Linked DNA regions of Homo sapiens. The protein of the gene in region 3 interacts with the protein of the main gene of each other region in a pairwise test. Each region holds a gene or a part of one and is shown on either strand. Other genes may lie near its edges. The genes, in order: CALM3, CDH1, CAMTA2 and DLST.

Evidence for each region.
Region 1: the proteins of CAMTA2 (region 3) and CALM3 interact in a two-hybrid assay, tested with the Homo sapiens proteins (2 studies listed by BioGRID).
Region 2: the proteins of CAMTA2 (region 3) and CDH1 interact in binary tests that used the Homo sapiens proteins (3 or more experiments, as listed by UniProt).
Region 4: the proteins of CAMTA2 (region 3) and DLST interact in binary tests that used the Homo sapiens proteins (3 or more experiments, as listed by UniProt).

What each region holds. Positions count from the first base shown.
Region 1 is NC_000019.10:46,603,969-46,611,607, reverse strand, and holds the end of CALM3 (calmodulin-3), read right to left. Parts: intron 5,782-7,639; coding exon 5,751-5,781; intron 3,785-5,750; exon of another isoform or gene 3,412-3,784; coding exon 3,268-3,411; exon of another isoform or gene 3,127-3,267; coding exon 3,020-3,126; exon of another isoform or gene 2,763-3,019; coding exon 2,627-2,762; exon of another isoform or gene 2,603-2,626; intron 2,511-2,602; exon of another isoform or gene 2,484-2,510; coding exon 2,455-2,483; 3' UTR 826-2,454; downstream 1-825. UniProt on the Homo sapiens protein: Calmodulin acts as part of a calcium signal transduction pathway by mediating the control of a large number of enzymes, ion channels, aquaporins and other proteins through calcium-binding. Calcium-binding is required for the activation of calmodulin.
Region 2 is NC_000016.10:68,740,205-68,747,890, forward strand, and holds part of CDH1 (cadherin-1 isoform 1 preproprotein), read left to right. Parts: intron 1-2,274; exon of another isoform or gene 2,275-2,369; intron 2,370-7,686.
Region 3 is NC_000017.11:4,983,990-4,992,457, reverse strand, and holds the start of CAMTA2 (calmodulin-binding transcription activator 2), read left to right. Parts: upstream 1-4,782; 5' UTR 4,783-4,828; coding exon of another isoform or gene 4,829-4,865; intron 4,866-4,996; exon of another isoform or gene 4,997-5,499; coding exon of another isoform or gene 5,500-5,504; intron 5,505-6,171; coding exon of another isoform or gene 6,172-6,235; coding exon 6,236-6,266; intron 6,267-6,474; coding exon 6,475-6,578; intron 6,579-8,468. Other genes in the region: protein INCA1, read left to right, coding at 2,193-2,306, 2,529-2,568, 2,834-3,030, 3,514-3,679, 3,904-4,053. UniProt on the Homo sapiens protein: Transcription activator. May act as tumor suppressor.
Region 4 is NC_000014.9:74,884,461-74,892,146, forward strand, and holds part of DLST (dihydrolipoyllysine-residue succinyltransferase component of 2-oxoglutarate dehydrogenase complex, mitochondrial isoform 1 precursor), read left to right. Parts: intron 1-1,125; coding exon 1,126-1,174; intron 1,175-4,634; coding exon 4,635-4,687; intron 4,688-4,814; coding exon 4,815-4,889; intron 4,890-5,436; coding exon 5,437-5,492; intron 5,493-6,595; coding exon 6,596-6,707; coding exon of another isoform or gene 6,708-6,766; exon of another isoform or gene 6,767-7,598; intron 7,599-7,686. UniProt on the Homo sapiens protein: Dihydrolipoamide succinyltransferase (E2) component of the 2-oxoglutarate dehydrogenase complex. The 2-oxoglutarate dehydrogenase complex catalyzes the overall conversion of 2-oxoglutarate to succinyl-CoA and CO(2).

The DNA.
Region 1 (7,639 bases), on a different chromosome or scaffold from region 3:
ACATCCCCACTTGCCACGAGAAAGTTGAGCTTTCTGTGGTTTGTAATTTGGCTGTGACCGCATAGTGGTTTGTACTCTGCCTTGTGTGGTTTGCAATTGTTTTGGGCTTTTTGTTTCAGATCTTCAAACCAACACTGAGTCCCGTGCCCTCCCTGTGAGCTCAGGACCATGCCTTTCTCACCACTGTAGATCCAAACTTGGCATGTTTTGGCTGCCTGTGAGACTAAAGCAGTGAATGCCACCCCTCTCCCCAAAGCATCAAGAGGCTCACCCACTGCAGGGCCTGCCCCTGCCTTCCTCTCTTCACCCGGCTGGGCTCCAAGCTGCTCGGGGCTCTCACCCAGTCTCGCTGGATTTCCTTCAGTTCCTTGATGTCTGGGCTTCTCTTGCCTCAGGGCTTCCATACATGTCGTCCCCCCGAACTGGAATGCCCTTCCGTCCTTCCCCTACCCGGCTAGGGGACTGCCCATCTTTCAGGTAGGTCTCAGCTCAGTCCTGCCACCTGACTGGGCTGACCCCTTCTCTGTGTGCTCCCATGGCATGATGGGCCTGCCTCAGAGGAGCCTTCTCAGTCCCCGCCTTTCAGTCCATTTGTGCGACTATCTCTAGGACAGGACCCTGCCGTTGATGACCCTGCGATCTAGCTGGGATCAGAACTGTGGTTCAGAGGCGTCCACTGGGCTGCACTGACTGGACACAGCTTCAGAGCCAGCTTTGAGGAGAGGCTCTTCCACCTCTGGGCCAAAGGAGTCAGTGCTGGGGTTGGTGTGTATGTGTGTTGGAGGGGGGCAGGCCAGAAACTGAGACAGGAGGAGAGGAGCCAAATCAGGTAGTCACTGTATTTTATTGGAAAACATTGATATATATTTTTCTTCACAGCTTGAACTGAACACAATATTGCCCGGTTTAAAAAAAACAAAACCAAAACATTCCGAAAATGTCCACAGCCTCACGCCTACCTGCCCTTACCCTCAGCTCTTGGCTGGGTCTCCCACTATGCCCCATCCCTCCTTCCCTCAGAGGCTGGGTGCCAGAGGGTGGATGAGAAGAGATTCTCAAAGCTGGGCAGGTCCCAGGAAAAGCCACTTGATCGACCTGGGCAGTGAGGGGAAGCAGGGGGTGGGGGGTGGGGTGGGGAGGTGGTGGGGGGAGCCAGATGAAATGAACAGAAAAGGGGAAAAAACCCAGACGACTGAACTGCCCACATTGACTTACTTGTCCCAGAGGCGAAAGTCAGAAGCAAGGGCACGGATCATGCTCTCCGCTGGGGGAGTATGGGGGCAGGCAGGTGGGCGAGGGAAGAGGCAGGGAAGAGGGCACGGAGCACAGATGTGAGGAAGCGGCGCCAAGTCACCACGGAGAAGCGGGAGGTGCTGGCGGACCAGGACGCAGAGGCTGCTGTAGCTGCCGTCCCCTGGGCAGCTGGCCGACAAGACTGTTTTATTGCAGGTGCGTTCTCTTGAGAGCGTGGTGGGGCCCATCTTCCCTCTCCCCACCCTTTAGCTAGCCCAGCATGGTTCTGAACAAAATGAAAGTCTTAAGGGCCATAGAGGGGAAAGAAAAAAAAAGAGAACCAGCACATTACAAAGCGACCATCCCCACATCCATTCCTAGGACGGGCCCTCAGGGCGGTGGGTGCATCGTGAGGAGGGAGCGGCATGGGATGTTAGCACCAGGTATTTACAGAACAGCTCGAGAGCGCTTCAGGAACGCGGGCAAGTCCAATTTGCAGAGTGGCCAAATGAGCAGTCCCCACCCAGCCAAACCTCAGAAAGCCAATCAGATGGTTTCAGAACAGCAGCCAGTGGGATGTGAGTGTTGCCCACTGTCAGTCCCCTTCTGTGAGTTGGCCCCCTCGACCCCCTCCTGGGCCACATCCAGTCAACGCCACAATTCCTCAACGCCCCCTCAGTCCTTCTGGAATGCCTCTCTTGGCACCCCTGCCCCAACAGGCTGCTGGGATCTGCACGTGGAATCACAGGGCTGGTTGCATGCAACGGCAAAGGGCATGCTCTTCTGCCTGGGGGAGGGCCTCTTGTCCCTCCCAGCAGGTCCCGGGACAGGGCTGGCAGCCACCCCAGCACCCAAAATAAGATGACAAACAAGAGGAAACAAACCAAAATGGAGGAGAGCCATCCGGGCTGGAGGAGGGCAGAGGCTCCCCAAGGGGATCTGGGGAGGGCTTCAACTTATGAATGCATCAGGCCTTGGAAGACATGGATGGAAGAGGCGAGGGCAAAAGGAAGAGATGAGGGGCATGGAGAGAGACTCAGGGAAGAAGGAGAAAGAGCAATCATGCAGCTTGGGACAAATCTTTTGTTGCTTTATCAGATTCTCAGTCAATCAATTGGTGTTTGCTAGAACCGGGGTACGCAGGGGAGTGTTGAAGAGAGAGTGCGCGCGCGAGAAGAGAGAGATCAAGAGAACGGGCATCGCCAGCTGCCCGGGGGGCCTTCACTTTGCAGTCATCATCTGTACAAACTCTGTGGAGTGAAGCAGAGAGAGAGGAGGTCAGGCGGGCAGGCTAAGTGGCGAGCGGCCCTCCCCAACAAGAGGGATCTGGGGGCTTGTTCCTGAAGCTGCGATTCTCTTCTTGTTCCAGAGATCAAGCCTGGCCTTGACTCACCTTCATAATTGACCTGGCCATCTCCATCGATGTCAGCCTCCCTGATCATCTCATCCACCTCCTCATCGGTCAGCTTCTCCCCCAGGTTCGTCATTACGTGACGCAGCTCTGCGGCGCTGATGTAGCCATTCCCATCCTGGGGGTTGGGGATAAAGCCTTTCACTGGGCACTTCTCCCGGTGGGGAGAGAGGCAGTGAGAGGGGTGGCTGTCATCACCATCCCTCAGCAGTGAGCACAGTGAGGGAGGCTGCCTGAGGTGGCAGAGCAGGTTGGCAATGAGGCTGGCACCGGGACCCGGACCTCCTGGAAGTGGTAGCTCCGTGGCTCCAGTTCCGCCTGTCTGCCTGAAGGCTGGCGTCAGTCTCAGAGCCGCCCCTGGAGAGGGCTGCTTACCTTGTCAAAGACACGGAACGCCTCTCGGATCTCCTCCTCACTGTCTGTGTCCTTCATCTTTCTGGCCATCATGGTCAGGAACTCCGGGAAGTCAATGGTCCCGTTCCCTGGAAGGTGGGGAAAGGATGGAGAATGCTCTTGGCCTGGGCCCTGAGAGACACGGGCTCATCCATCACCCTGAGAGAGGCTCCCTGCAGTCACTCGGGGTGACCAGGAGCAGGGCTGCCCACGCGCTCTGTGGGGCTCACCATCTGCATCCACCTCATTGATCATATCCTGCAGCTCTGCTTCAGTGGGGTTCTGTCCCAGGGATCTCATCACTGTCCCCAACTCCTTGGTGGTGATAGTGCCATCTCCATCCTTGTCAAAGAGGGAGAAGGCCTCCTTGAACTCTGGGGGAAGAAGGGGGAGGAGTCAGAGGTCACAAGGTCCACAGGAGAATCCTTACCTCTGGATGCTGGATGCCTTCCCTGGAGGAAGGCCAAGGGCATCAGTCCCACCTAAAGAAACTGAGACAGACTTCAAGTCCCACGCAACCAGCTCTCTCTCCTCAGTGCTCAGGGCAAAGCCCTTCCAACCTTCATTCAACAGTTATTGAACATCAACACTGTGCTAGGTGAAGCTATTTTTCTGGCCAGCCAGTGAAGACAGTGGGGAAAATGGTCTGACAGCTGTCCTTAGATGATTCTACATTTCTGTTTGGTCCCTGGCTTTGACTTCTCCCTTGAAATGATGAAATGAACCAAAGTCATGGAGTGAATGAGAGCCGAAAGGATTCTTTGTCTGAGTGTGTTAGCCAGGGTTGGCTGGCTGGGACGAGGAGGGGAGGCTGCAGAATGCCTCTGGCCGGCCTGAAGAGGAAATGCAGGCATCCACTCCCTTCTGACTGGCAGCCCTGTTCCTTGCCGTGGGTGCTACCAGCTTCCAAAGGAGCTGAGCCACTGCGTGTGGTGAGCGTGGGGGTGGTCGGCAGCAGAACATGGCTGACGGACAGTGCGTGGGGTTGATGGGGGGATGGAAAGCGAGGGGACGGCTGCCAAGCCAGGAGGATGAGGAGCTAGCAGTGCTGAGTGGGAAGGCCACAGCTGGGGCCGCATCAGGGGCAGGGAGAAAAGCACATGGCTCTTGCCCTCCCACTGGGCCCATTTTGGCACCTGGTGCTCCTCTACCCCCAAGCCCTCCAAAAACAGATGTCCGGCAGCCTATTCCCAGAGGGTGTGGGCTGGGGTGAGGCGGTGGACAGTTTGCTAATGGGGACAGGGTGAAAAGCAGACCGTTTATGTTGCACAAGGCCAGAGTTGGGAGATGGGTGGCAGGTGCATTGGGAGGGACATGCACAGCTGGGAAGCTGTGGCCCTGAGCCTCTGGGCCCTGGGGACATGGCAAGAGTCTCTTTGGGGAGGCTGGCACCTCCCTGTGCTGAGGCCTTGTTGTTCTTGGGGAGGGCAGGTAGTGAGTGGGTCATGGGGCACCCCGAGCTCATGATCACTAAACCAGGCCATCTTCTGGCTTTCCTCAGGGGTCTCCATAGCCACCCAGGGCCAAAATTTTGAAGCTGCAAAGGTGACTCTGTGATGCGGGTTGAGGGGAGAAAGGAGAGAAGGCAAGTCCGTTCCTGCCTCCCACCGCAGAAGCTGGGCCTTTAGTACTTGTTACACAGCCGGTTGAACCTGACAGCAGAGCTGGGGGCTGGGTAGCTGGTGGGGAGCAGAGGCCCATTCTCTGGATCGCTACTCTGGTCTACTGTGTGCTGGCCCCTGGCTATGGAGATAAACCAAGAGTTGCTCTCTGTCCTCGGGCAGCTCAGTATGGGCGGGTAGGCAGGCACGGATCTGTAATTACACAATAGTTCCTGTAGCTGACCCTTCTGGGGTTTTGGAGGGGTTAGAAAAATGAATTAGATGGGATCCAGGGATTTCTTCTAGCTTGCTGAGAGAGAGATGTTTGTTTAGCCAGCAAAAGTTTGCGGAGGACCTACTACGTTCTAGGCAGGCATTAAGGCTATAGCAGGGACCAACAAAACCAAGTCCCAAACTCAATGGAACTCACATCTAGTAACAGGAGATACAACAGGTGAAGACATAAGAAAATAATTTCAGACAGCGAGAAAGGTTATGAAGAAAATAAAGTGATGTGAAGGAGAGTAAAGGAAGGCTGTGTACTTGAGATGGGGGTCAGGGAAGGCCTCCCCGAGGGGACATCTGAGCTAAGGGACGGGAAGGAGCTGCCCATGCAAAGCACTGGGGAGGCACTTCCGCCAGCAGAACAGGCAGGCGCAGGCACATGCGAAAGGAAGTGCAAAGCGCAGGCAAGCGCAGAGGTGGGAGTGACGAGCCAGCTCCTGGGCGGCTCCTAAAGTGGGACAGGAGCTCTGCAGGCCCCACAGGGAGGCAGGGAGCTCACCTTCTAAGCCAACCTGGCTGAAGCTGGGAGAGAGAGTTGGGCTCGTCCTGCAGCCACTGATATCAAGCCCCTAGATGACCCAGGCCCAGGAGAGGAACACAGCCTTTGGTGTCTGGTAAAGGCCTGTCTCAGGGCCATGGGGCTTCGTGTCATTGGGGCACTGGTGTGCTCTTACACACATTTATCAGCATTCTAGGCACAAGGCATAGTGTTAGGTGACACAAGGGATACACAGGTTCACCCATCAGATGTCACTCCTCAGTGGCTAAGATTTGGCTGGGGATGTGGAGGCTTTCCTGAGCTAAGATGAGGGGGATAGCAGACTCACCTGCAATCTGCTCCTCAGTCAGCTGGTCAGCCTGTAAAAGCATGAAGGGGAAAGTCAGTCACCAGGCCGGACAGCACGGACGCATCTTCCTCACTCAGCCCAGACCCTCGGCCCCAGTGAGGCCAGCTCCACGTGCCATTCCCGCCGGGCCAGGGAGGAGCATGCCAGAGTCAGGGTCTGAGGCAGAGCCAGCGCCTGATGATAAAGTCTGGTGATTCAGAAAGCTGGGTACCAGGGTGGGCTGGACACTCAGGCCTGCTGGACGCACGGCCCGATGAAGCTGCCCAGACCCACGGGCTTCCAATCTCAACTCAGCATGTGGGAGCCACAGGGGCGGGAGAAAAGCCTGCCCCAGCCCCAAACCAGCAGCGCTGGTGAGGCCTGGCACAGGTTTGCATCTCATCAGTGAGAGCCCCAGAGGCCGAGTGAAGGGAACGATTGCCCTGGAGGCCTCATCAAGAAGCTCTAGAAGGCTCCAAACTGAAGCAGGCCAGTCCTTGGGTAGGGCAGAGGGACGATGTCTGGGGCTATCTCTGCTAGTTTCTGTGTCACCTATTTGGAGGCGGTTGGCTCAGGCAGAGTCCACCCAAGTGGCAAAAATTCTCCTAACCGGCGGCCCGAGTTGCTCAAGCACCTAAAGAACTCTGGTCAGGCTGGAGGCAGGCGCTCCACCCCCTGCGCACAGTGAGGGCACAGGGCCATTCTGTTTTGTTTCTTTTGGGCAGAAGGGACAAACGTCAGGGAGAGGGCTGCAGCGGGCAGCAGCAGAGGACTGAAGCTGGCTTGCACTGCAGTTTTTAACCCTTTCCAGCTTGGGCACTCTGGGGACTGGCCAGTGGGTGGCAGGCAGCCCTTGCTGCATGCGGGGTTTGGGGGTGGGGAGGAGATGCGGGGACTGGCTTCTCCTGCACTGGTGTGCTGGGCATCAGCCAGGCATAGTGATCCTATGGGGCAGGAGCGGGGCTGGGGGGTTGGGGAGGCTGAATCCCAACATTTAGCTTTAGCAGCCAAAAGACACATTTTCCCTGGTTTTTGTTGATGCTGTGAAGAAGGCACCACCATCCCGGGACCATGGTGGGTCTGTTCCCCTTCCTTTCACAATCAGGGAAAGGGGCTCCAAGTCTATAGCATGTTCTAGTCTCGAGTCTGAGAGCCTCAGAAATAGAAGCAGACTATTATGTGAATTTGCAGTATTCTACGGAGAGGTTCCAGAAGCTAGGAACAAACCACTGCCTGCCTCCCCTACCCCCATCCCCGTCCCAAATATTAACAATCACTGATCTAAAAAAGTTAGAAAAAAAAAAAAAAAACCTAACGGAAGAAGAACTTGCAAGCCCCAAATAGGCAGAATGGGAGGGGTAATCAAAATGATGATCACAGAGGGGAGAGGGCTTAGGGAGGGGGAAAGAGGAAGGGAGAAAACGGCACACATGCACATTCTGGAAAAGTCCAAAGTGTAAAGGGGAGGTGGGGAGGCCAAATGAAGATTCTTCTGCATTGCCTTCAAAAAAGACAGGGTGGTTGGGCTTCTAAATGCCAACCTGGTAGCCCCAGGCCCATGAGCCTCTTGATCCACCTGCCCCCCACCTCCCACCATGGACAAAAAAGCCTGGAGCCATCCCTTAGGTCCTGACACCTGAGGAAGAGGCTTAGGGAAAGTGAGAAGGGAGGATGGGCTTCTGGTTACCGAGACCAGGCAATGCCCAGGGAGGGTCAGGGAAAGAACAGAGAGGAGGGCAGCAGTGTGGGGAGGTGGCTGCCATCCCATCTGCTTTTCATTCTTTCCCCTGGCCTAGAATGGAAAAAGCGAGCCAGGTCAGGGCCTTCCCAGCCCACTGTTCCGCCCTGCAAGAAGTCCAGCTCCCCGGACCTTTGGGCAGCACTGTAAG
Region 2 (7,686 bases), on a different chromosome or scaffold from region 3:
AGGGAACACCTCCACTGTGTCATTCTTCCAGTCTTTGACCACATGAATCTTTAGCAATCACGCTGTTGTCTTTACATTTTTTTTTTGAACTTTGGAAGTCATTCGAAGTTTTTTACAGAGAAACTACAGCTCGACTGATGAAGTATATTTGCTCTGTGTGCTCTAGAGCTTTCTATTGGATCAGAAGTTATCTCTAACTCCTGGGCTCAAGTGATTCACCCGCCTTGGCCTCCCAGAGTGCTGGGGATTGGATATTTTGATGTCAGTGGGCATTGAGGAGTGGCTTCTCGGGGAAGGCAAACTTGATCCAGTCTTGGAGAGCAAGGCAGGGGCTAGAAACAAGCTTGTATCTGAGCATGCGTCTGGGGTGTCCCAGTGCTAAGGCTGGTGACTTTGTTTTCCTGCACCAAGATATTTGGTAGCACCAAGGGTGGGTTGGTCTGGTTTTTATTTCTCCCTTCTAAGCTCCTGTGTTTGACCAATAATATTATTACATATTAACACTAATATGTTAATAATTAATAGTGACACGTATTCACTTTTGCCTCAGACTCTGGGGCAAGTGCTTCACATATTTTACCTCATTTAGTCTTCACTAGAACGTTAGGAGGGTGGGCACTGTTATTCTTCCTACTTTGCAAGTGAGGAAACTGAGGCATAAAGCAATTCTGTAATCTGAAGCATCCGCAGTTGGTCTTTTCTCTTCCTTTTTCTCCTTGTTTTTCACCTCAATAACCTGAAAAAACAAAAACAAAGAAAAAAGGTGTTTGGGGAATTAGTGTCCAATGTGAAGTAAGCTGAGAATGGAGGTGTTGACAGGGTGGGACCTCCGAGAGGGGGTGGTGATGATGGAGATGGGTCAGACCCGGGGGAGGTGGCGGGGGACCCTGGGACTGGTGATTTAGTGGGAAGAGGCAGCCTTCACACAGAATCCGCAGGCCTCTGGTGTGGTTGGTTTCAGTTCCCTTTATGTTCACAGACCCCCACCCCCACACAACAGATTTCCTGACATTTAATATTTGTTTTGGCTTTTTTGGACTGTGGGGTCTCCTTGTATCAGTCCAATGTGGAGTCGCCCCAGGATGGAAGTGCCCTTCTGGTAAAATCACACGTTCAATCTGAGGAACTGGCTTGTGATTTTAAAAGGCCGCTAGGACTTGGGATGTGGCCTGACTCTCTTTGGACAGTGCACGGAAGTGAAGGGATGGATGTAACATTGGCACCAGGTTTAGACATTGGCTTCATGGAGAATTTACTCCATGGGAATTTTGAAACTTGAAACCTGTCACTTTTTGTGCACAGGCAGCTGTAGGGTCTTAACTCAGGGGACTTTGGAGTGTTTGCTAGGGTCATTCCTCTGCCCCATGCTGTGGCTGACCCCATGATCTCAACCTTGTATTTATTCCATTGGTTTATCTCCAGCTTCTAGAATGAAGACCTTTACAAAAAAAAAAAAAACCAAACTCAACTGTAATAAACCAGTTTTTGTTTTGAGACGGAGTTTTGCTCTTGCCGCCCAGCCTGGAGTGCAGAGGTGCGATCTCGGCTCACTGCAACCTCTGCTTCCTCAGTTCAAGCAATTCTCCTGTCTCAGCCTCCTGAGCAGCTGGGATTGCAGGCACATGCCACCATGCCTTTGTATTTTTAGTAGAGACAGGATTTCATCATATTGGTCAGGCTGGTCTCAAACTCCTGACCTCAGGTGATCCGCCTGCCTTGGCCTCCCAAAGTGTTGGGATTACATGTGTGAGTCACCATGCCTGGCTAATAACCCAGTCCTTTAGAGTTGCTGCTTATTTTCCTTCTTCATAGCACACACCGGTCTGAGAAACCCAGGCTATTAGACAGTTTGGGATCTCTGAAGTATTAGCCTAGTAACCACAGCTGTAAGTTGACTCAGGCGCGGAAAAAAGAAAAGCTGGCAGGCTTTCCCAGTGATTGTTTTCTTCCTTTGCTTGCTCTGCAATCTGGCCTTGGAAACACAGGGCCTATATTTCAGTGTTGAGGTTTGGCTGCTTGAGGGGTTGACCTAGTTCACAGGCACCCAAACTTTGTGGATTAAATACACCCATTTCCCCTCCTTTTTTTTTTTTGAGACGGAGTCTCGCTCTGTTGCCCAGACTGGAGTGCAGTGACGTGATCTCGGCTCACTGCAACCTCTGCCTCCCAGGTTCCAGTGATTCTCCTGCCTCAGCCTCCCTAGTAGCTGGGACTACAGGTGTGTGCCTCCATGCCTGGCTAATTTTTGTATTTTTAGTAGAGACAGGGTTTCGACTACGGCCATACCACCCTGAACGCGCCCGATCTCGTCTGATCTCGGAAGCTAAGCAGGGTCGGGCCTGGTTAGTACTAGTACTTGGATGGGAGACAGGGTTTCACCATGTTGGTTAGGCTGGTCTACAATCTGGAGTTTTGCTCTTGTTGCCCAGGCTGGGCAAACTCCTGGCCTCAGGTGATCCGCCCACCTTGGCCTCCCAAAGTGCTGGGATTACAGGCGTGAGCCACTGTGCCCGGCCATTTCCCCTCCTTTCTGAAGGATGTGCTGAACGTTTCAGAAAACAGTATGCAGCCTCCCTAATACAATTAGACTTTTAAAAAGCAAACCCAGAAACCAGCTTTGGGATCACCTTACATCATCAGATCCCCACCCCCTACCCCTCAAACTCATAAAAGTCACTTCCCCAATTACTCATGTCTGTGACAAAGGTTGATCTGAGCTTACTGGGAAAGAAGACCAGTGGGCCGCCCTCCTGGCCTTGCCTTTGTGTCTCTGGAGGTGCGGAGGTGGAAAGTCTTGGGCCCGGCAAGGCCATGTAAAGAAGGCAGGCTGCTGCTTCCTCCCAGTGGGGCCCTGCCTGCCCCTCTCTGCCAGGTGGTTATGGAAATCCCTGTTTGCTCTCCAGGGCTTTTTATTGGGTGAGGCTTTTCTTCCAAAATGCTCACCTTGTGTCTGTTACACATTCCCTTCCAAGGTAGCCCCAGATACGCCAGAGGCTGAAGCTCTCGTATCTCCCAGAAGCTGCCCAAACCCTAAAATCCCCGAGAGGCACCTGTCCCAATCCAATCCTTGCTGGGTCTCTTTCTTTCTTTCTTTCTTTCTTTCTTTCTTTCTTTCTTTCTTTCTTTCTTTCTTTCTTTCTTTCTTTCTTTCTTTCTTTCTTTTCTTTTCTTTCTTTTGAGACGGAGTGTCACTCTGTCGCTCAGGCTGGAGTGTAGAGAGGTAGGATCTCAGCTCACTGCAACCCCCGCCTGCCATGTTCAAGTGATTCTCCAGCCTCAGCCTCCTGAGTAGCTGGGATTATAGGCACGCAGAAGCATGCCCAGCTAATTTTTGTATTTTTAGTAGATTCGGGGTTTCACCATGATGTCAGGCTGGTCTTGAACTCCTGAGCTCAAAGTGGTCTACCTGCCTCAGCCTCCCTAAGTGCTGGGATTACAGGCGTGAGCCACCGAGCCGGGCCCCTTCCTGGGTTTCTATCCTGCCTCAGCTCTATCTCCTTTGAGGGCACAAGGCTTTCAAAAAGGAGAATGAAATCATTCAGCAGTGGCTGTTTAGGATCCTTCAGCGAGGAAGTACAGGAAACTAGGTTTGAATTTTAGCCACTAGCTATTTGACTTTGAATAAGTCACTTTACTTCTATGAGTCTCAGTTTCCCCACCTGTAAAATGGGGCGGTAATACTTATTGATCTATTATGAGAATTAAGTATGTACATTCATTTAGTTCACAAAAGTGAGTGCCTGTTGTGTGTTAGCACCAGGCTAGACCCTGAGGTTACGGCAGATTGGACGGAACATACATGCCAATGGGCAGGAATGTAAAGAGAGAAAGTAGAGAGAATATTTTCAACAGTAGTTGATATTTCTTAGGGACACAGTAAACTCTCAATGTTATTTTGAGCAAATGAATGAACACATGAATAAATCGCTATCTTGGCCAATATTTTTCCCTCTCAAACTCTATGGACTTGGTCCAGCCCTTAAGGTTGATTGTAAATGGGCGGGGAAGAATTTGGTGGGTTAGAACCTTCCATTATGCTCTGTGTGTGCTGGGGATACTGTGTTCATAGCTTCCCTCTGAACAGCTGTGCAGGGCAGGCAGGGAGATCTCAAACCTGAGTCTGGAAATGGGAGGGCATATAGCCATTTTTAAGTGTTTTCCACCTTTGGTCAAATAAAAAGAAATCTGTGGTGCATGCTCACTCTTTCTCTCTCTATCCCCATCTCTAGCCATCTCCCTTTCTTTCTCTCTTCCTCTTTGTTAATGTAAGTTTCCCTAGGCCAGGGATCTCAGTGTCCCAGCTTGTTCTTGTTACTCTTGGGGGACTGGGGTTTAGGCCTCCTCCCTTTCTGCACTTTTCATCTTCCTCCTTCCTTCCTCTTACCTGCCTCCAATCCTCCACTTCTGCCCAAGATTTGGGTGGCATCTTCCCCAAATTCAGAAGGTTCTTGAATCAGACTGCCTAGATTTCAATCCAGACAATGTCACTTCCCAGCCTAGGGATGTCAGCCAAGGACTTAGTTTCCCTCTCTGTAAAATGAGCATAATAGCATGGAGACATCATAGGATGGTATGTCAAGCGTTCAGTGAATATGAAATATTAGAGCCCCAGGAGGACTTGGTGCTGTCTGTTTGAAAGTCTCCCATGTTTTACGTTTGGTTCAAAAGATCCCCTGCGCTCCCTCTCACCCAGCAAACCAGCCAAACCAGTTTCTTCACCCTGCCTGCTTCTGTGTTAAGCAAACAGTGCACTGCAAACAGTGACTAAGCCTAGTGCCTTGTTAGGAAGAAACTGGCGTTTTTTTGCTTGCCACTGTGCAGGGTGCTCAGGGTGGACCGGAACGGGTTTGTTGTGGCTTAGGAAAGGGGACCTGCTCGTGGAGGTTGTGTAGAACTGGAGTGGGAGGAGTGGGGCAAGGCGCAGCTAGGGCCGGGGGAGTCGGGATGATCTTGAACTTGTCAGCTTCTGCTTGGCTTTTAAAAGTTATCCAGGCCAGATAGATGCTGTGGCTCACACCTGTAATCCCAGTGCTTTGGGAGGCCAAGGCCGCAGGATTACTTGAGCCCAGGAGTTTGAGACCAGCCTGGGCAACGTGGCGAGACCCCCATCTCTACAAAGATTAAAAAAAAAATTTAGCCAGGTATGGTGGCGTGCACCTGTGGTACTAGCATCAAAAAAATGCAAAAATTTGCTGGGCGTGGTGGCATGTGCATGTAGTCCCAACTACTCAGGAGGCTGAGGTGGGGGGATTGCGTGAAGCCCGGGAGGTCGAGGCTGCAGTAAGCCATGATTGCACCACGGCACTCCAGCTGATAGAGATCCTGTCTCAAAAAAAAAAAAAAAAATATATATATATATGTATATATATATGTATGTGTAATATATGTGTATATATATGTATGTGTATATATATATATATATGTATATATATTTCATGATGCACATGCCTAAGAATACCTGTCTGTTCTCCTGCTGCCAAAAACGCTCTGTCCCAGCCCCTGAGATCCTTGTGGCTAAAAATCAAATCACCTAGGGCACTTCATGCAGACTTGCCCTCTTGCAGATTCACTGAGAGCCAATCTCCAAGGGTGGAGATCTGAACTTGACATTTACTTACTTATTTATTTTTTGGGATGAAGTCTTGCTCTGTCACCCAGGCTGGAGTGCAATGACACGATCTCAGTTCACTGCAACCTCCGCCTCCTGGCTTCAAGCAATTCTCATGCCTCAGCCTCCCAAGTAGCTGGGATTACAGGCATGCACCACTACGCCTGGCAATTTTTTTTGTATTTTTGTAGAGACGGTTTCACCATGTTGGCCAGTCTGGTCTCAAGCTCCTGACCTCAGGTGATCTGCCTGCCTCAACCTCCCAAAGTGCTGGGATCGCACGCGTGAGCCACCACACCCAGCCTTGAATTTGATGTTTTTAAAAGCTCCTCAGGCCAGGTGCGGTGGCTTACGCCTGTAATCTGCACTTTGGGAGGCCAAGGCGGGCAGATCATGAGGTCAGGAGTTTGAGACTAGCTTGACCAACGTGGTGAAACCCCATCTCTACTAAAAATTCAAAAATTCAGCTGGGCGTGGTGGCATGCTCCTGTAATCCCTGCTACTTGGGAGGCTGAGGCAGAAGAACTGCTTGAACACGGGAGGTGGAGGATGCAGTGAGCCGAGATTGTGCCACTGCACCCTAGCCTGGGCAACAGAGCGAGACTCCATCTCTAAATAAATAAAATAAATAAGCAAGCTCCTCAGATATCTGCTGCCACTCAATGCATTTCCCTGGACAATCCCAGGGGCTAGATGTTTGATGAGTAAATACCCCAGCCAGGATGTGGGCACCTGGTTGTCCAGCCCAAGGCCAGGGATCCCAGGTCACACCCTTGATCAGGGAGGGATAGGCTGGTGCTTCTGCCATGCCCAGGATTGAGAACTCTATGGATGCAAGGAGGGGTGGATGGGAGGCTGGGTGCAGTGGCTCATGCCTGTAATCCCAGCACTTTGGGAGGCCAAGGTGGGAGGATCACTTGAGGTCAGGAGTTTAAAACCATCCTGGCCAATATGGTGAAACCCCGTTTCTGCTAAATATAAAAAAAGCTAGCCGGGCGTGGTGGTGCATGCCTGTAATCCCAGCTACTTGGGAGGCCGAGGCAGGAGAATCACTTGAATCTGGGTGGCGGAGGTTGCAATGAGCGGAGATTGTGCCATTGCACTCTAGCCTGGGCAACAGAGCGATACTCCATCTCAACAAACAAACAAACAAACACACCAAAGTGGGGTGGATGGGTGTGGGAGTGGGGGACCCAGAGAAGTATCCAGTGCACCCAGGCCTAAGACTCACCCCCTACACTCAGGGAGATTCCAGAAAATCTCCAAGAGAGACCTCTCAGCAGGTAATTCCAGTAGGCTCCAAGAATGCCACTGGAATGAGAATGTGTTCAGGGGATGCCAGGAGTGGTCAGCTTCACCTGCTGGGCCTTGATGAGTAAGAGGGTGTCTTCCATGCAAGGAAAGGGAAAGGGCACTCCAGGAGGAGGAAGTGGGGTACCCAAAGGTGTGGCAGGGTCATGGAGGCAGAAGGCTGGAGCTGTGCCTTCCTGGGCACAGAAAGAGGAGGGAGGAGAGGGTCCCAGGATGAGGCTGCAGAGGCAGCTGGGCCAGGGTACCTCTGGGCCTTGGGCCGTGGGTCATGGAGGGTTTTCTCTTTCTGGGCTTTTCATAGGCAAATTATTCACCCGGTTAAAAAATAAGTTTAAATATACATCTTCATATATATATGAAAAAGCTTGTATATATGTCTGTATGGCAGACAGTGAAGTCTCCTTCCCACCCCAAACCACGCTTCACCCAGTTCTTCCCTGGGGCACAGGGAACAGATTTCATTAGTCTCTTGTGTATCCTTTTCAGTGTTTCCTTATGGAAATACAAGCATAGTCTTCTTTCTTTATGCCAGCGTAAATTCCTAACATATGATCCTTTTACACAAAGCATAGCATATGATAGCACTGCTCTGTACCTTGTTTTTCTCCCAGCAACGTATCTGTATGTTCTCTCTCTCTCTCTCCACACATATCTTCCTTAGACCGAATCTTGCTCTATTGTCCAGGCTGGAGTGCAGAGGCGCAATCTCAGCTTGCTGCAGTCTCCGCCTCCCTGGTTCAAGTGATTCTCATACCTCAGTCTCCCGA
Region 3 (8,468 bases):
TTAAAAGAATTAGCCAGGCATGGTGGCACACGCCTGTAGTCCCAGCACTCAGGAGGCTGAGGCAGGAGGATTGCTTGAGCCCAGGAATTTGAGGCTGCAGTGAGCTATAATTGGGTCACTGCACTCCAGCCTGGGTGACAGAGTGAGACTGTCTCAAAAAAGAAGAAGAAAAAAAACGGTTTGGATTTTATTCAGTGGAAAAGTTTTAAGGCAGAGAGTGACATGACCAGCCTTTTTTCCTTCAACTTTTTTTATTATGGAAAATTTCAAACAAACACAGTAGAGAAAATAGTATCATGAACCCCATGTACCCTTTTCAGTCAGCTTCAATAATTATCATTGTATGGATAATCTTTTCATCTCTATACCCATCTAGCCCCCTATTTCTCAAATTCTTTTGAAGTACATCTCAAACCTTATATTATTTCGTATGATCATCTCTCACAGTTCTGTGCAGAATATATTGTTGGGGGATGGGAATGGAAGCAGAGACGGGGGGAAGAGACCATTGCAACAGTCCAGGAAGGGGAAGATGACCTGAAATATATGGTGGTAGGAGTGGGAATGATGAGGAGTGGTCAAATTCAGGTACACAGTATTTTAGATGTAAAACTGACAGGAACTGCTGATGGATTAGATGTGGGAGGTGAGGGAAAGTGAGACATACCATGTTTTTGGTCTTAGCAACTGGGCATTTGAGTGCTTTTCATTGAGAGGAGGAAGGTTGGGGAGGAGATGTTGAGTGGAGCCCAGAGAGGAACCAGGGCTGGATATATAGATTTGGGAGTCATCAGCTTATTGACAGCATGGTACTGGGTGAGATCACCTAAGAAGAGATGAAGACAGAGAAGATAAAGGGCCCCAGGCCTAAGCCCTAACATACTCCATTTCTTAGAGATCAGGAGGGCAATCATCATTCAGCCTGTGGGGTTTGGAAGTGACGAGCAGTGTTCTCAAACAGCTCTGCACACTCCTATTTACAAGGATATTAGTCCTTTTGAGATGGGGAGACAAATGAAGTAAACAGAGGTTCTCTCCCCTGGATCCTTGCATTGACCTAAATGAATCCTATCTGTCATATAACCTGAGTAGCCAAGGCCTTCCTCTTTAACAACTCTGCTTGCTAAATATTACCTTCTCTAACTATGAGGTATAAAGCAAGCTTGTCCAACCTGCGGCCTAGGATGGCTTTGAAGCAGTCCAACACAAATTCATAAACTTTCTTAAAACGTTGAGATTAGGCCGGGCACAATGGCTCACACCTGTAATCCCAGCACTTTGGGAGGCCGAGGCGGGTGGATCACCTGAGGTCAGGAGTTCAAGACCAGCCTGGCTAACATGGCAAAACCCCGTCTCTACTAAAAATACAAAATTGGCCGGGCGTGGTAGTGGGTGCCTGTAATCCCAGCTACTCGGGAGGCTGAGGCAGGAGAATCACTTGAACCCGGGAGGTGGAGGTTGCAGTGAGCCGAGATCGTGCCATTGCACTCCAGCCTGGGTGACAAGAGTGAAACGGTCTCAATAAATACATAAATAAAATAAAATATTATGAGATTTTTTGCAATTTTTTTTTTGAGACGGAGTTTCTCTCTTGTCACCCAAGCTGGAGTGCAATGGCGCGATTTCGACTCACTGCAACCTCCTCCTCCCGGGTTCAAGTGATTCTCCTGCCTCAGCCTCCCGAGTAGCTGGGATTACAGGTGCCCGCCACCACGCCTGGCTAATTTTTTGTGATTTTAGTAGAGACGGGGTTTCAACATGTTGGCCAGGCTGGTCTTGGACTCCAGACCTCAGGTGATCCACCCACATCAGCCTCCCAAAGTGCTGGGATTACAGGCATGAGCCACCACGCCCGGCCAGTGTTAGTGTACTTTATGTGTGGCCCAAGACAATTTTTCTTCTTCCAATGTGGCCCAGGAAGCCAAAAGATTGGACATCCCCGATATAGAGCTTAAACTCAGTGAGATCTGAGGGTCAAACTATAGCCAATCTCCACCCTCAACCCAGCTTCAATTTCCTTTCAAAGCAGAGGCCTTACCACCTTCTTCAGCTAAAGTGGTTAAGAGAGGACATGGCCCGAGGGAACCTGGGCAGCTTTATAGTCCCATGGAAAGATGGCCCCTGAATCCTTGGGATGAGTAGACTGCTGTAAGGGAAGAGCCAGACCCGAGCCTACCTTGTCCTCACCTCAGGTGTTCCAGGGTGGTCAGCCGATCTCCACCCCCAAGGTTGCCTTCCCAGAGCCTCAGACCCATGCCCCAGCGTTATGGAGATGTCTTCTGGAAGAACCTTAATCAAAGGCCCACGTGAGTAGAGGAGAAAATGGAAACTAACTGGATGTGGTCTTAACTGGATTAAACTACCATAAACCCATATAGCAATAGGCCCTAGTCTGCGGTTAATTTCCCACTGGCTGGTGGACATTGTAGCTCCTAATGACAGAAAGGAGGTCGGGAGAGATTATTAAAGAAGCAATATGGATGGACATGTCCCCTCTGCACTTATAGCCCCCTTTTTGTTCTTCACAGCCCCACTTGGCTGGAGGAGCAGCACATTCCACCCATGCTGGTAAGACAGACCCTCTGCCGTTTAACATTTCTCTGTTAAAATTGCACCCACTGCTGTCCTGTCCCAAGCTCTCCTTATTACCGCTTCCCTCTGTTATTCCCCAACCAGTGCACTGACCAGGCCTTCCTTTCTATGAATCAGTCATCATGTTTTCGAGATCACAGGGGTCTTCCCAAGACCCCAGACTCCCTACCTAGTTCAATCCAAGCTCCCTTGAGAGAGCCAGTTCTTCTTTCTAGCTCTTTTTCCCCATTCTCTGGCACAGAGAGCCACTGGTTGCTCCCAGCTTGGTCTGTATCCTCCTGAGCAGCTCCCACCCCCTGAAATGCTTTGGAGAAGAAAGAAGAGGAGGCCATGTTTGGAAGGAATGCAGCAGCAGGGCCTTGGGGGAGTCCCCGCCCGGGTGAGGGCTGTCACTTACCACCTGGAGGACCTAAGAAGGCGTCAGAGCATCATCAACGAGTAAGGAAGGGAGACATCTGGGTTCTGGGAGTCATGCAGGATTTGGGGGCAGAACAGTTTGAGCTAAGGAAGGGGTTGACAGCTTTGAGGGGAGGTTTGAGGGGAGCTTTGAGGGGAGGTTGCTTGGAAGGAAGCTGTGGGCTTTGGTGTGATTGAAACAGATTTCTGTAATATGGAAAGAAGGAGGGAACTGCAGTAAGGAGGATGAGCCACATGAGCTGGAAGGAGTGGAAACTAGATCACTGAAGACAGGAAAGCAAACCATAGAACTGGAGGACAGTGGGGAGGTTGGGGTCACCTCTGGGTTCCTAGACAATATGCTTCAGTCTGAGGGGAGCAGAAAATTGGGAGTGGAGGGTTAAAGGTCAAATGACAACTCCCTGGAGTCCCAGCAGGAAGTATTTCAGAACAGAAAGGTGAAGAATGGAGAGACAGGAAGCCTGGCCTCCAGGCACTTCTCTCCTCAGCCTAAAGTCTCCACAGACTGAAGAAGGCCCAGTGGGGCAGCTCTGGGGCTGCATCTGAGCCAGTGGTGCTTGGCGAAGAGGGCTGTGGATTCCCCAGCACCAATGAATACCCTGATCTGGAAGAGGAGAGAGCAACCTATCCACAGGAAGAGGACCGTTTTCTCACTCCTGGCAGGGCCCAGGTATTGTTGGAGTGGAACTGGGTGGAGTGAGGGAGTGATGTGGGTCTCTGGTCTTGCATGGAGATGCAGAAGCTGAGAGCCAGGCTGGAGAGCTGGATTTGAGAGAAACAAAAATAACGTAGGTGAGAACCAGAGACTTCGAGGTACCTAAGCTTGGGTACTAGGAAATCTGGAAAGAAGACCTACTTTTCCATTTTCTTTTTCAATTTCTCTCATCTTGACAGCTGCTTTGGTCTCCCTGGAGCCCCCTGGATCAGGAGGAGGCTTGTGCCTCCAGGCAGCTGCACTCTCTGGCCTCGTTCAGCACTGTCACAGCCAGAAGGAACCCCCTTCACAATCCCTGGGGGATGGAGTTGGCAGCGTCTGAAGAGTAAGGAGAAACCACCGATGCCGAGAGGCTAGTGGTGCCCCAGGGACCCAAGACTAGTTCCGTCACTAGAGTCACCCTCATTGCTGACATGAAGGCGTTTCCCCTTCCTTCGTCTCTCCAACTGCCTTTCCCATCCTCTGAACTAGGCATTAACAGCCCCCGTGGGCTCCCATCTCAACCCACCGCTCTCACAGGAGCACCCCAAGTCCTGTTTTCCTCCAGGCCCCGCTCCTGGCCTTGTATTCTCTCTGCTCTGTTATTAAAAAGCAAGCAAGTGGAGCCCGAGTTGTCTTTCTTCTTGGGATGCAGCGATGGAGAGGCCAATGGGGAAGGAGGGCTCCTTTCGCTTTCTCGAGGACCCAGCTACAATGAAGTCGGGCTGGGTCCCCAGACAAGGAGTCTTGTCCGAGGCGAGAAGGGTCCTGCTCCCAGTCCAGCGTTCCTCGCCCGGCCCCTCGGGTTCCAGCACTGGTGGGCTGCCCCCGCCCCGTTCTCTCGAACTGGGAGTCAGTCGGCCGAGCTTCCGCCTCCAGGACCCTGGAATCCTGCCCCTCAGTGCTGCTGCCCTTTTGGGGACTTCCCAGCAGTCTGTCCCTCGGCCTGGCTCAGAGCCCTAGAAGCCGAGTCCCTCTGCCCAGCGCCCCACCCAGAACTCCACGTGTGCTGACCCCAGGTTCCCTTCCTGACCCTCATCCCCTTAATTGGGAGGCCCCGCCCCGTGCGCAGTGACGTTAGACGCCGCTGTCAGCCGGCGCTGGGGGGGGTCGGTGTGGGGTAGAATGGCCGCTGCCGCCGTCACCCGCGGGACCCCGGGAGGTAAGAGCCAGGGCCTCTCGCCCGCCTCTCCGCCCCCGCGCCAGAGGGCGCAGCTCCTCCAGGTCCCGACGCGGAGCGCCGCGCCAGGGACCACCGTCCCTCTTCCCGGTTCGCCCTCACCTCCCGCTTCCGTCCTCCTCCCCCGCGCCAGGGGGCGCCGCTCACCGCAGGGCCCCACGGCGGACCAGCGCGTGCCGGGGACTGTCCCGGAGACCCCCGCACCCGGCACCTGCACTGTCCCTCGCCCACCGCGTGCCCGCGGACTCTGCTCCCGGCTTCTCCAGAACATCCCTCTATGCGGGCGGGACCCTCCCACCTCGGAGGTTCTCCTGGGACCACCACTCCGCCGGGGGGCCGCCCAGAGTGCCAAGCGTCCGATCCGGCGCCGCCCAAGTGCAGCCCAAGGACCCGCTCCCGCTCCGCACCCTGGCAGGCTGCCTAGCCAGGACTGCGCACCTGCGCCCTGGGGCGGAGTCCTTACCCCAACCCCAGCTTCACTGCACATAGCCGAGCCCGACGGGCCTCCTCCCATCTCCATCCTGGACACCTGGCGGAGCCCGTGCTGAGAGCCTCCGCCAGCTCCCATCTGTTCCCCGAGGAGGGCGGGGGGCTCAGGCTGGAGCCAGAGCGGTAGATGGGGTAGGCTAGGCCTGGAGGCCAGGGGAGGCAGAGGCGTTTGGGGAGAGGGAGCTACGTAGAGAGGGCTGTCAGCCGGAGGGTGGGTTGTCCTGAGGGTGGGAATCTGGGTGTCTGGCCCAGATTCTATCAGGTCCTAACCAACCTGGAGGAGAGAATAGGTTAGGTTCAGTTATCAGATCTGCCCTTCCCCTTGGAAAAATCAAACAGAGAAGGAACTCAGGGCGTGTCTTCTAAAGGCCTAGCTTCTACCGGAGGTAGAATCTCCTGCCCTGCCCCCAGGATCCAGGCTCTCTTGCCAAACCATCCTCCAAGGACCGGATGGCCTGAGTCCCAACCCCCAGGACCTGACCCAACCATAGCCCCAGTCTGTGCAAAAGCTCAAGGTTTAGGGCCTCTGAGGCCCAAGCCCTGCCAGTCTTCTCCCCGCTCCCCCACCCCAACCCATTTCTTCCTGCTCACTCTTCCTGTCCAGTCTGCTCACTCATATTGGCTCCGGGCACTGTGTGTTGTTCTCTCTTCTACTGTCACATCACAGTCAGCCCCTCCCTCCCTTTCCTCATCCTTCCCAGATACTATGACCCAGTTCTATACCCACTCCCTACCTCATACTTCTCATCCTGGATTAATGTGGGGGCTTCTGCCATGACCTTGTTCTCTCCCTTCCCAGCACAGACTCCCCCTCCCCCCGGCCCCTCAGGCCGGGGGTGACCTTGCCCCCTGGAGCCCTCACCATGAATACCAAGGACACCACCGAGGTTGCTGGTAAGTTCACAAACCAGGTTCCCAATGTGGCCACAGCCTTTCGTTCTCCCCACGCTTTAGTGGCCCTCTAATTCTTGGATTTTCTGTTCTCCTTAGTGAGGTTTCAGTTTTCCCCAGTGCTCTGTATTGCCTTCAGCCCTTTCCCCTTGGACTATCACAGGGATGCCCCAGGGTAGCACACTAAACCCTCCCTTCTAATTCCCTTTAGAAAACAGCCACCACCTGAAGATCTTTCTCCCCAAGAAGCTGCTGGAGTGTCTTCCTCGCTGCCCGCTGCTGCCTCCAGAGAGGCTACGGTGGAATACAAATGAGGTTTTCTAGGGAGGCTGGGGGTTGGGGCCCAGCAAGACCTAGTAGGCTGGAGGAGGGTGAGTGGGGGGTCTTTCCGTGTCTGTCAACACTCCTAAGTGCAGAGCACCATTCTAAGCTCTTTGGGGATCCTAGGAGAGGTATAAAAACATGGATCTTGGCCGGGCATGGTGGCTCATGCCTGTAATCCCAGCACTTTGGGAGGCTGAGGCGGGTGGATCATCTGAGGTCAGGAGTTCAAGACCAGCCTGGCAAACATGGTGGAACCCCGTCTCTACTAAAAATACAAAAAGCAGCCAGGCGTGGTGATGTACGCCTGTAATCCCAGCTACTCGAGAGGCTGAGGCGGGAGAATTACTTGAGCCAGGGAGGCGGAGGCTGCAGTGAGCTGAGATCACGCCACTGCACTCCAGCCTGGGTGACAGAGTGAGACTCCGTCTCAAAAACAAAAACAAAAAGACATGGATCTTGAAGGAGCCCTCTTTTCTGTGGCATAGCCACCTGGGTAAAAACAAAAGCTACTGCCAGTAAAGTATTCCTTACATACTGGGCACCGTGCTAAACATTTGGCCTGCCTTGTCTCATTTAATCCTCTAACGGTTCTATAGAGCAAGCCCTGTTATTGCTCCTATGTTATTGATGAGGAAACTGATTTACCTCATAGTTTATCTAACTTACTCCAGGGCCTTTTTTTTTGAGACGGAGTCTCGCTCTTGTTGCCCAGGCTGGAGTACAATGGCGCGATCTTGGCTCACTGCAACCCCCGCCTCCTGGATTCAAGTGATTCCCCTGCCTCAGCCTCCCAAGTAGCTGGGATTACAGGCATGTGCCTCCACGCCCGGCTAATTTTTGTTTGTTTTTTTTTTGAGATGGAGTCTCGCTCTGTCGCCCAGGCTGGAGTGCAGTGGCGCGATCTCGGCTCACTGCAAGCTCTGCCTCCCAGGTTTACGCCATTCTCCTGCCTCAGCCTCCGGAGTAGCTGGGACTACAGGCACGCCACCACACCTGGCTAATTTTTGTATTTTTAGTAGAGATGGGGTTTCACTATGTTGGCCAGGCTGGTCTCGAACTCTAGACCTAGTGATCCGCCCATCTCGGCCTCCTACAGTGCTAGGATTACAGGCATGAGCCACCACGCCCGGCTGGAACCTTTGTTATTAACCACCACTGATACTGGCTCTTTCTGGAGGAGGCACAGTCCTTGTGTTACACATTTTCTGTATTCTGCATACTTACTGCCTTGTATGTAGTTGGTTGTTGATATTTATCAATTTGATGTCAGAAGAGGACTGTCAGTAAAACGATGCGTGTATGTGTGTATGTGTGATTGTTGTAAGTGCTATAGAGCGTTTAGGAAGGTCCAGTGTGGTCAGCAGGGCTTCATGGAGCATCTGAAAAGGGGTTTGGTTTATAGAATGGCTATGATTTCCAGATATGGAGAGGTGTGCACATGGTACCTGCCTTGTAGGGCACTAACATGCAGGAGGTAACTATTCAAAGCATGTTCAGGAAGGAATCAATGGATCCATCTGGCAGGAATTGTAGGAGCAATATGGGTAAATAGTGGGAACAGTGAAAGTTTGATCCCTTGTTGGGAAGAACCTTGGAGTCAGGCTAAAGAATCTGAAACTCCTGCCAGGCACAGTGGCTCACGCCTGTAATCCCAGCACTTTGGGAGGCTGAGGCGGGTGGATCACGAGGTCGGGAGATCAAGACCATCCTAGCTAACACAGTGAAACCCCGTCTCTACTAAAAATACAAAAAATTAGCCGGGCGTGGTCGTGGGCGCCTGTAGTCCCAGCTACTCAGGAGGCTGAGGCAGGAGAATGGCATGAACCCAGGAGGAAGAGCTTGCAGTGAGCCGAGATGGCGCCACTGCACTCCAGCCTGGGT
Region 4 (7,686 bases), on a different chromosome or scaffold from region 3:
TAGTCGCTTAACCTCCAAAAGTCCTACTTATATGAAATGGGAATAATGGCAGATGGTCGTTCCACTTCAGAGAGTTGTGAGACTGTAAAATCAAAATGAGGTCATTATGGGAAAGCTTTTTATAAACCCTAAAGCACTGTACAAATGAAATTTGCTGTAGGATGAACTCTGAATTGGACTCCAGGTTCCCAAAATCAGTGTGAGCCGCCATCTATTCTAGTTCAAAAACATACTATGCTTAGAATTTGCACTGCATAGTCATTGGCTGCTGGACATAAAGGTGACTGGCTTACCTATCTTGGGATGCTTGTGAGGAGGTGGGCATAAGAGAGGGCTAGCTCTCATTTGGTGTGTCCTGAGCCCATGGTTCAGAAAGAGTTGTTAATCTGAAAGAAAAAAGACATAAGAAAGAATTCAGAAGAGGCAGCTGTAGTTACTAGTCATCAGTTGGGGAAATGCAGTTAACTATGATAAGGACAGCTGGTGGGCAGAAAGGGTCTCTCACCTTGTTGAGAGTGACCAGGGTGGAAGACTTCAGAAAGGCATGGGAAGTCAATAAACTGAAAGATGGGGACATGATTTTCTCAGCTCTAGGACAAACTGGAGACCCCGAGCCTAAAGTAGCCAAGTCTTTGCTACTAGGATTCAGGTGATAAGATTTCCAACCCAATCTTTTCAAACCCAGACCAAACATCCTCCTTGCTTCTCAAATTGGGTTATGTATAGTCACAGGATAAGCCATCCCATGTCTTTCTCAAGCTTCAGTTGTATTTGAAGACTTGGCGAGTAGAGACATTTTATTATGAAAACATACAGGAATAATGAAAAGTTCTGGCTTTTTAAGGTAGATGAGATTATATAATCACTTTGGGCTGTGCCATCAAATTTTTTCTCTTTCCTCCCCAGCCAAACACATACCCACTCGATCTCACATACCCATTTGCTCTCTGCCACTAAGGCTACTTTGGAAAAGTTTGAGAAGCAGGACTCTATGATAAAGATTATATCCGTTGCCGTTGATCCTGCTCTGTCTCAGGGTTGGGGGTGAGCAGACCTTTTCCATTCCCAGCATGTATCCTTTGTGAGATAAGAGTTGTTGGTTAAGAGTTATTTTGTTTCTTGCAGGGGTCTCCTTATGCCAGGGACCAGGTTACCCTAACAGCAGGAAGGTTGTGTAAGTATCACTGGGGAGTACAGATATGTGGCCACGGGTTATTTATTTAAAGACATAAAGTTCTAAATTTGACCATCTGATTTCTTCACTGGCCTCCAGACCTAGAAATTGAGGTGATTATGTTGAGTCCCTAGACTAACCTCAATGTTCACTTTTCCCATGTGATGTTCCTTGAGCATCAGCTCCGTGTCAGGTTTTGGACTGGGAGTGTGCCCACTCTCCACAGGTGTTTGGATTATAATGAAAGTTAAGTTGGAATCCTCTTTTTATGGGATATAGAAGGGTGCTCCTAGATATTCTGTTTGGATGTAAGTGCAGCTGAAAGGCTCGAGGTTACATTTATTGTGGAGATTGAGAGCATCCTCTCAGTAGCATAGTTACTCATTTTTAAAAACAGTAAAAGCATAAAACTGGTTGAGTCCTGGGACTGACTGACTAGTTTGGAGGGAATGCTGTTATTGCATAATGCAGAGTTTGGAGAAAGGCTACCCATGTGTGTTTCAGATTAACTTCTGCGTATGAATGTTGCTTAAATGCTGCTTTGCATTCCAAGTGTTTTTGTGGTGGTGCTAAGAGAATGCTCTCTAGTAACCTGTTCAGCAGCTGTCAGGCTGCTTACTCTACAGGGAGAATCCTCAAAGTGAAGAGGTCAGCGGATGAGCTTCTTACTTACTCTACATCACAATGAGGGTTTTTGTTGTTGTTGTTTTGAGACAGGATCTTGCTCTGCCACTTTGGCTGGAGTGCGGTAGCCTGATCTTGGCTCACTGCATCCTCAGCCTCCTGGGCTCAAGAGATCCTTTCACCTCAGCCTCCTGAGTAGCTGAGACTACAGGCACATGCCACCATGCCCGGTTGTTTTTTGTATTTTTTGTAGAGATGGGGTTGTTTTGCCATGATACCTGGGCTGGTGTCAAACTCCTGGGCTCAAGCAATCCATCCACTTGCCTTAGCCTCCCAAAGTGGAGGATACAGGCGTGAGCTATGGTGCCTGGCTGATTTTTTAAAATTTGAGTAAATGTTGCACTCAGTACTAGAAATATGAATCCCGGTGTTATTTTGGAGGGCAGTTTGATAGTCATAAGTCTTTGAAGTGTGTGTACCTTTTCTTTTTTTCTTTTTTTCAAGATGGAGTCTTGCTCTGTCACCCAGGCTGGAGTGCAGTGGCGCGATCTCGGCTCACTGCAGCCTCTGCCTCTCGGGTTCCAGCAATTCTCCTGCCTCAGCCTCCTGGGTAGCTGGGATTACAGGCGCACGCTACCACACCTGGCTGATTTTTGTATTAGTAGAGACGGGGTTTCATCTTGTTGGCCAGGCTGGTCTCTGAAACTCCTGACATCAGGTGATCCGCCCGACTCAGCCTCCCAAAGTGCTGGGATTACAAGCATGAGCCACTGCCCGGCCTGTGTGTTCCTTTTCATCTAGCAATTCCATCTCTAGGAATCTATACTGAAGAACTCCTGGTATATTTATCTCAGATTTAATATCTGATAATATAAATATTATCAGATTTATCTTAAAATGGCAAAGAGCAAGGGATTGGCTAAACTATAGCATGTTCACATGTTCACACTATGAAAAGTGGGAAAAAGCAGGTTACAAAATAATTTCATTTTCTACTGTGTGGTATGATCCCATTGTAAGTATTCTTTTTGCTATTTCTAATATTCTGTAGTGAACATCTAGTTATTTAGAGATTCAAAATGTATTACTCATCTGCAATCAAATGAAAATTGGGGCAATCATGACTCTCTACAATAAATACACTAAATATTTGAAAGTAAATAATGAAGAAAAAGTAAACTTTGTGTGGGATCACCCCAATCATGTCACCCTAATCCAGTATCTTTGTGTGTGTTGTGCCTTTTTTGTGAATAAGGTACCCACTTTATTTAATAAATCTTTTATTGTAAAACAATTTTTGGTTTTATGTTTTTACTAATAGTATTATATTTACATGATTAAAAATTCAAAAAGTAAAAAGGGTGTCCATGAGAAGACTTTTTTATCCTTGTCCTCTAGCCCCCCGAATGCCTCTTGGGTAGTGGTGGCCACCACTCCGGGTTCCTGGATGACTTGCAGAGCAGCCTCTGCACTTGCATGTTACCTGTTAGTTCTTGCCTATAGGCATGTACTTTACAAGGTTACAAACTATATGTAGAACAATTTGTATTCTTGTAGTTTTTAAATATCTTCATTTTTTCTTGGTTATACATAGACCTTATAGTTATTTTGACATTATAAAAGTAAAAATACCTAAAGACAACTTAAATCTCTTTTACTTTTCTATTATAAAAATGCTTGTTGTGGAATATTCAGACAATCCTGAAGTGTAAAAAGTGAAAGTCCCCATCCAAATCATTCTCCCAAATTGTGTAAGTGTGCAACACATAACCAGAGATACCATATATGTCTACATCTCTCACCCCTCAGAGGTAACCACTGTTAATGGCTTTGTGCATACAGGGTGAGCTGATTCTCCAGTTTATATTATTTACTGTAAAGGCCATATCAGTAAACGCCTTGGTCTTTGAGGTTCGTTTTGAATGAATCCAGAATGTGTTGATGTGCTGTTTTCTAGCAAGAGAACCGAGTAGGAGATACCATATGGGGTTTGTGTGTGGTTTTTTTGTTTTTGGGTTTTTTTTTTTTTTTTTTGGCATAACACCTTGTTTTACTTCCGAGTTAACCTTGTTAATCTTGCTGCCTTATCTGATCTAAATCTGTTATCTTGAGGGCAGAAATTCCATTATACCTTGCACAATGGCTTGTACCCTGGGCAGGCCGTAAATCTATCTCGGATTTAGTTAAGGAAGAGACCTGGCTGGACATGGTGACTCACTCCTGTAATCCCAGCACTTTGGGTAGGATCTTTGAGACCCGTCTGGGCAATGAAATCCATAGTCTACAAAAAGTAATTTAAAAAAATTATCTGGGTGGCATGTGCCTGTAGTCCCAGCTACCCGGGAGGCAGAGGTGGGAGGATCCCTTAAATCCAGGAGTTTGAGGTTACAGTGAACTATTATCATGCTACTGCACTCTAGCCTGGGTGACAGAGCAAGACTCTTATCTCTTAAAAAACAAAAAACCAAATCAAGAAGCTAAGTCATTTCGGTCTGCAAAGGACCAAGGTGCTTATTTTTTTATTGAAAGAGCCAAATGTAAGTCTGTTTTGTGAGAGTTGGCATTGCATTGCAGCACAGGGGCCTGAGCATACTTGGGGAGCTCACCATTTAAGGTACCTGGGTCGTTAGGCTCTACTCCAGACCTGCTGAGTCAGAATCCCTGGGGGAGAGGCCTAGACAAGTGAACTTTGAAAAAGTTCCTCCCCAAGTGACACTGATGGACACCCCTGGTCAAGAGTCACTGTTTAAGGGGAAGGTGACCCATGGGGCCTTAACTAGACTAAAATGTGAGTGGTTCGCCTGTTAAAAGGAGTTAACGTGTGTTTCTTTTGTAGCATTAACAACAGTGTCTTCAGTGTTCGCTTTTTCAGAACTACAGCTGTATGCAGTAAGTACCTGCTTTCTTGGGAATGGAATTTTATGGGAAGAGCAACAATTGATTGAGTTTAATTAAAGAAAAATATTAAAAAGGAAAAATGAACTACTTATGATTTTCTTTTTTGCATTTTTCCTAGAGGATGACTTGGTTACAGTCAAAACCCCAGCGTTTGCAGAATCTGTCACAGAGGGAGATGTCAGGTGGGAGAAAGGTAAGATTTAGTTTCCTATTTTTTTTTTTTTTTTTTTTGAGACAGAGTCTTGCTCTGTTCCCAGCCTGGAGTGCAGTGGTATGATCTCGGCTCACTGCAGCCTCTGCCTCCCAGGTTCAAGTGATTCTCCTGCCTCAGCCTCCCGAATAGCTGGGATTACAGGTGCCCACCACCATGCCTGGCTAAGTTTTTTGTATTTTTAGTAGAGACAGGGTTTCACCATGTTGGTCAGGCTGGTCTCAAACTCCTGACCTCAGGTGATCTGCCCACCTCAGCCTGCCACAAAGTGTTGGGATTACAGGCCTGAGCCACTGCGTGAGCCACTGCGCCTGGCTCCTCTCACTTCTTAAGTTTAAGTGCTATCTAAAATTCTCCCCTCCCCTCAGGATAGTTGTAGAATTTATAGCTCTGCCGTTTTCTTTACATATGTACTTTCTGCTGGCCCTGTAGGAAAGGGTTCTTATAACATACCTGCCAAAATGGGTTTTGTGGCTACTGGAGGCTCCCCGCTAACAGGTAGCCTTGTAGCCTTTGATTGTCTTTTCAGCTGTTGGAGACACAGTTGCAGAAGATGAAGTGGTTTGTGAGATTGAAACTGACAAGGTAGGCTTATCTTATATTCGTACCAGCTTTTCATGGGCTTCCCTTAGTTAACCTAATGAAAGAAACAGGGACTTAACCATTGTTTAGAGATAATTTTTAACTAGCTCTAACTTCAGTTGTAAAATTATTGGATTTGTTCAATTTAAAAAAAAAACAACTTTTTACATTTAACTTTTTTTTTTTTTTTTTTTTTTTGAGACAGACTTGCTCTGTTGCCCAGGCTGGAGTGCAATGGCCTGATCTCAGCTCACTGCAACCTCCACCTCCTGGGTTCAAGCGATTCTCCTGCCTCAGCCTCCCTAGTATCTGGGCTTACAGGCGCATGCCACAACGCCGGGCTAATTTTTGTATTTTTTGTAGAGACAGGTGTTGCCAGGCTGGTCTCAAACTCTTGACCTCAGGTGATCTGCCCGCCTTGGCCTCCCAAAGTGTTGGGATTAGAGGCATGAGCCACCGCACCTGACCTGCATTTAACTTTAAATTGTTTGCTGTGTGTGTACTATGTACTTCATTTAGTAGCTTTAGTCTTGTAGTGTGTGGTGAGGGGGTGGGGAGGGTAAATAAGCTGTTTCCACTTTTTCCTGTATCACTTGGAAACATATTAACTGAATATTGCCTGAATGTTTCTGAGAAAGGACAGAAAGTGAATCTTCACAGTAGCGATGACTTGTTATCACCCTTGCTCTGAAATTATGGCCTTAGATGTTTGTGTGCAAGGCCTTATATATTGTGTTGCAACTCTTGTTACTCACTGGAGATACGCTGTTGTTGTTGTTGTTTTGAGACGTTTCGCTCTATCACCCAGGCTGGAGTGCAGTGGCACGATATCGGCTCCACCTGCCAGGTTCAAGCGATTCTCGTGCCTCAGCCTCCCAAGTAGCTGGGATTACATTTTTGTAGTTTTTAGTAGAGATGGGGTTTCACCATGTTGGCCAGGCTGGTCTTGAACTCCTGACCTCAAGTGATCCGCCTGCCTTGGCATCCCAATATGCTGGGACTACAGGCATGAGCCACTGTGCCTGGCTTCATTGGAGATTCTATACAGCTAATTTTCTAATGCTGGATAAACATTTGGACTTCCTCCATCTGTCTTCCTCTTCCAGACATCTGTGCAGGTTCCATCACCAGCAAATGGCGTGATTGAAGCTCTTTTGGTACCTGATGGGGGAAAAGTCGAAGGAGGCACTCCACTTTTCACACTCAGGAAAACTGGTGGTAAAGAAGTTCTCCTGGTGGTCAAGGTCTCCAGTGTTCCCTCTTGGGATTGGGACTGAGCATAATGTGCTAATTCCCCGATATGTCAAAGACTCTTGTCATTCCAGCTGCCCTTAGTTGAGGGAATAAGGGGTAAATTTATATATAGTGTGAACTTCAAATGTCAAATTCTAAAAGAAAAGTGTATTTTTTAAAAAATAAACCTTATACTCTGTTCTTTCCATGGGTGTTTCTTAGCAGGAGCTGAGAAACTGGACCTTTTCTTATAGATATACAGATTGAGCATACCTAATCTGAAAATTCAAAATCTGAAATGCTCCAAAACTGAAAATCCAAAATCTGAAATGCTTCAAAACTTTTTGAGCACTGACAGAATGCTCAAAGGAAATGCTCATTGTCTTTTATGGGGAATTCAGTGTTGTTTCTTTTCACATCTGTTCTCTCATATCTCTAGGAAGGGTTGGTATTTCTTTTGGGAAGAAATGAGAAACGAATTTGTACTGGACCTGATAGGATTAGAGATTAATAACTTTATCTGACTCTTAGTTAAATTTTATAACCACTAAAAAGTCTATTTCTTTTTCCTAAGCGAGAATCGTACCCGTAGACCAACGAGTCACAGAAGTCTATTTCTTTTTCACTGTTACACTAATAAGGCAGATAGACCGCATGATTGAGGTTAGTCAGGCAAGACCAGAAGCTCAGAGTAGAAAACATGTATGGTAGAAGGCTGGGAAATAAGGTAGTCCTCCTGTTGCAGAAGTTTGTCTTAGCACTAACCCTGGATATAATGTCCAGATGGGTGAAAAACAGAAACAAACATTTCATTTAAAGTTGTGAGATTATTACTTGGCCACTTCAGTGATTTATGAGTCATCCTGGATGAAGTGCTTTCTTAAGCCTAAGTCAACCCTCGATGACTATTTTATTTTTTGAGATGGAGTTTCACTCTGTCGCCAGGCTGGAGTGCAGTGGCCTG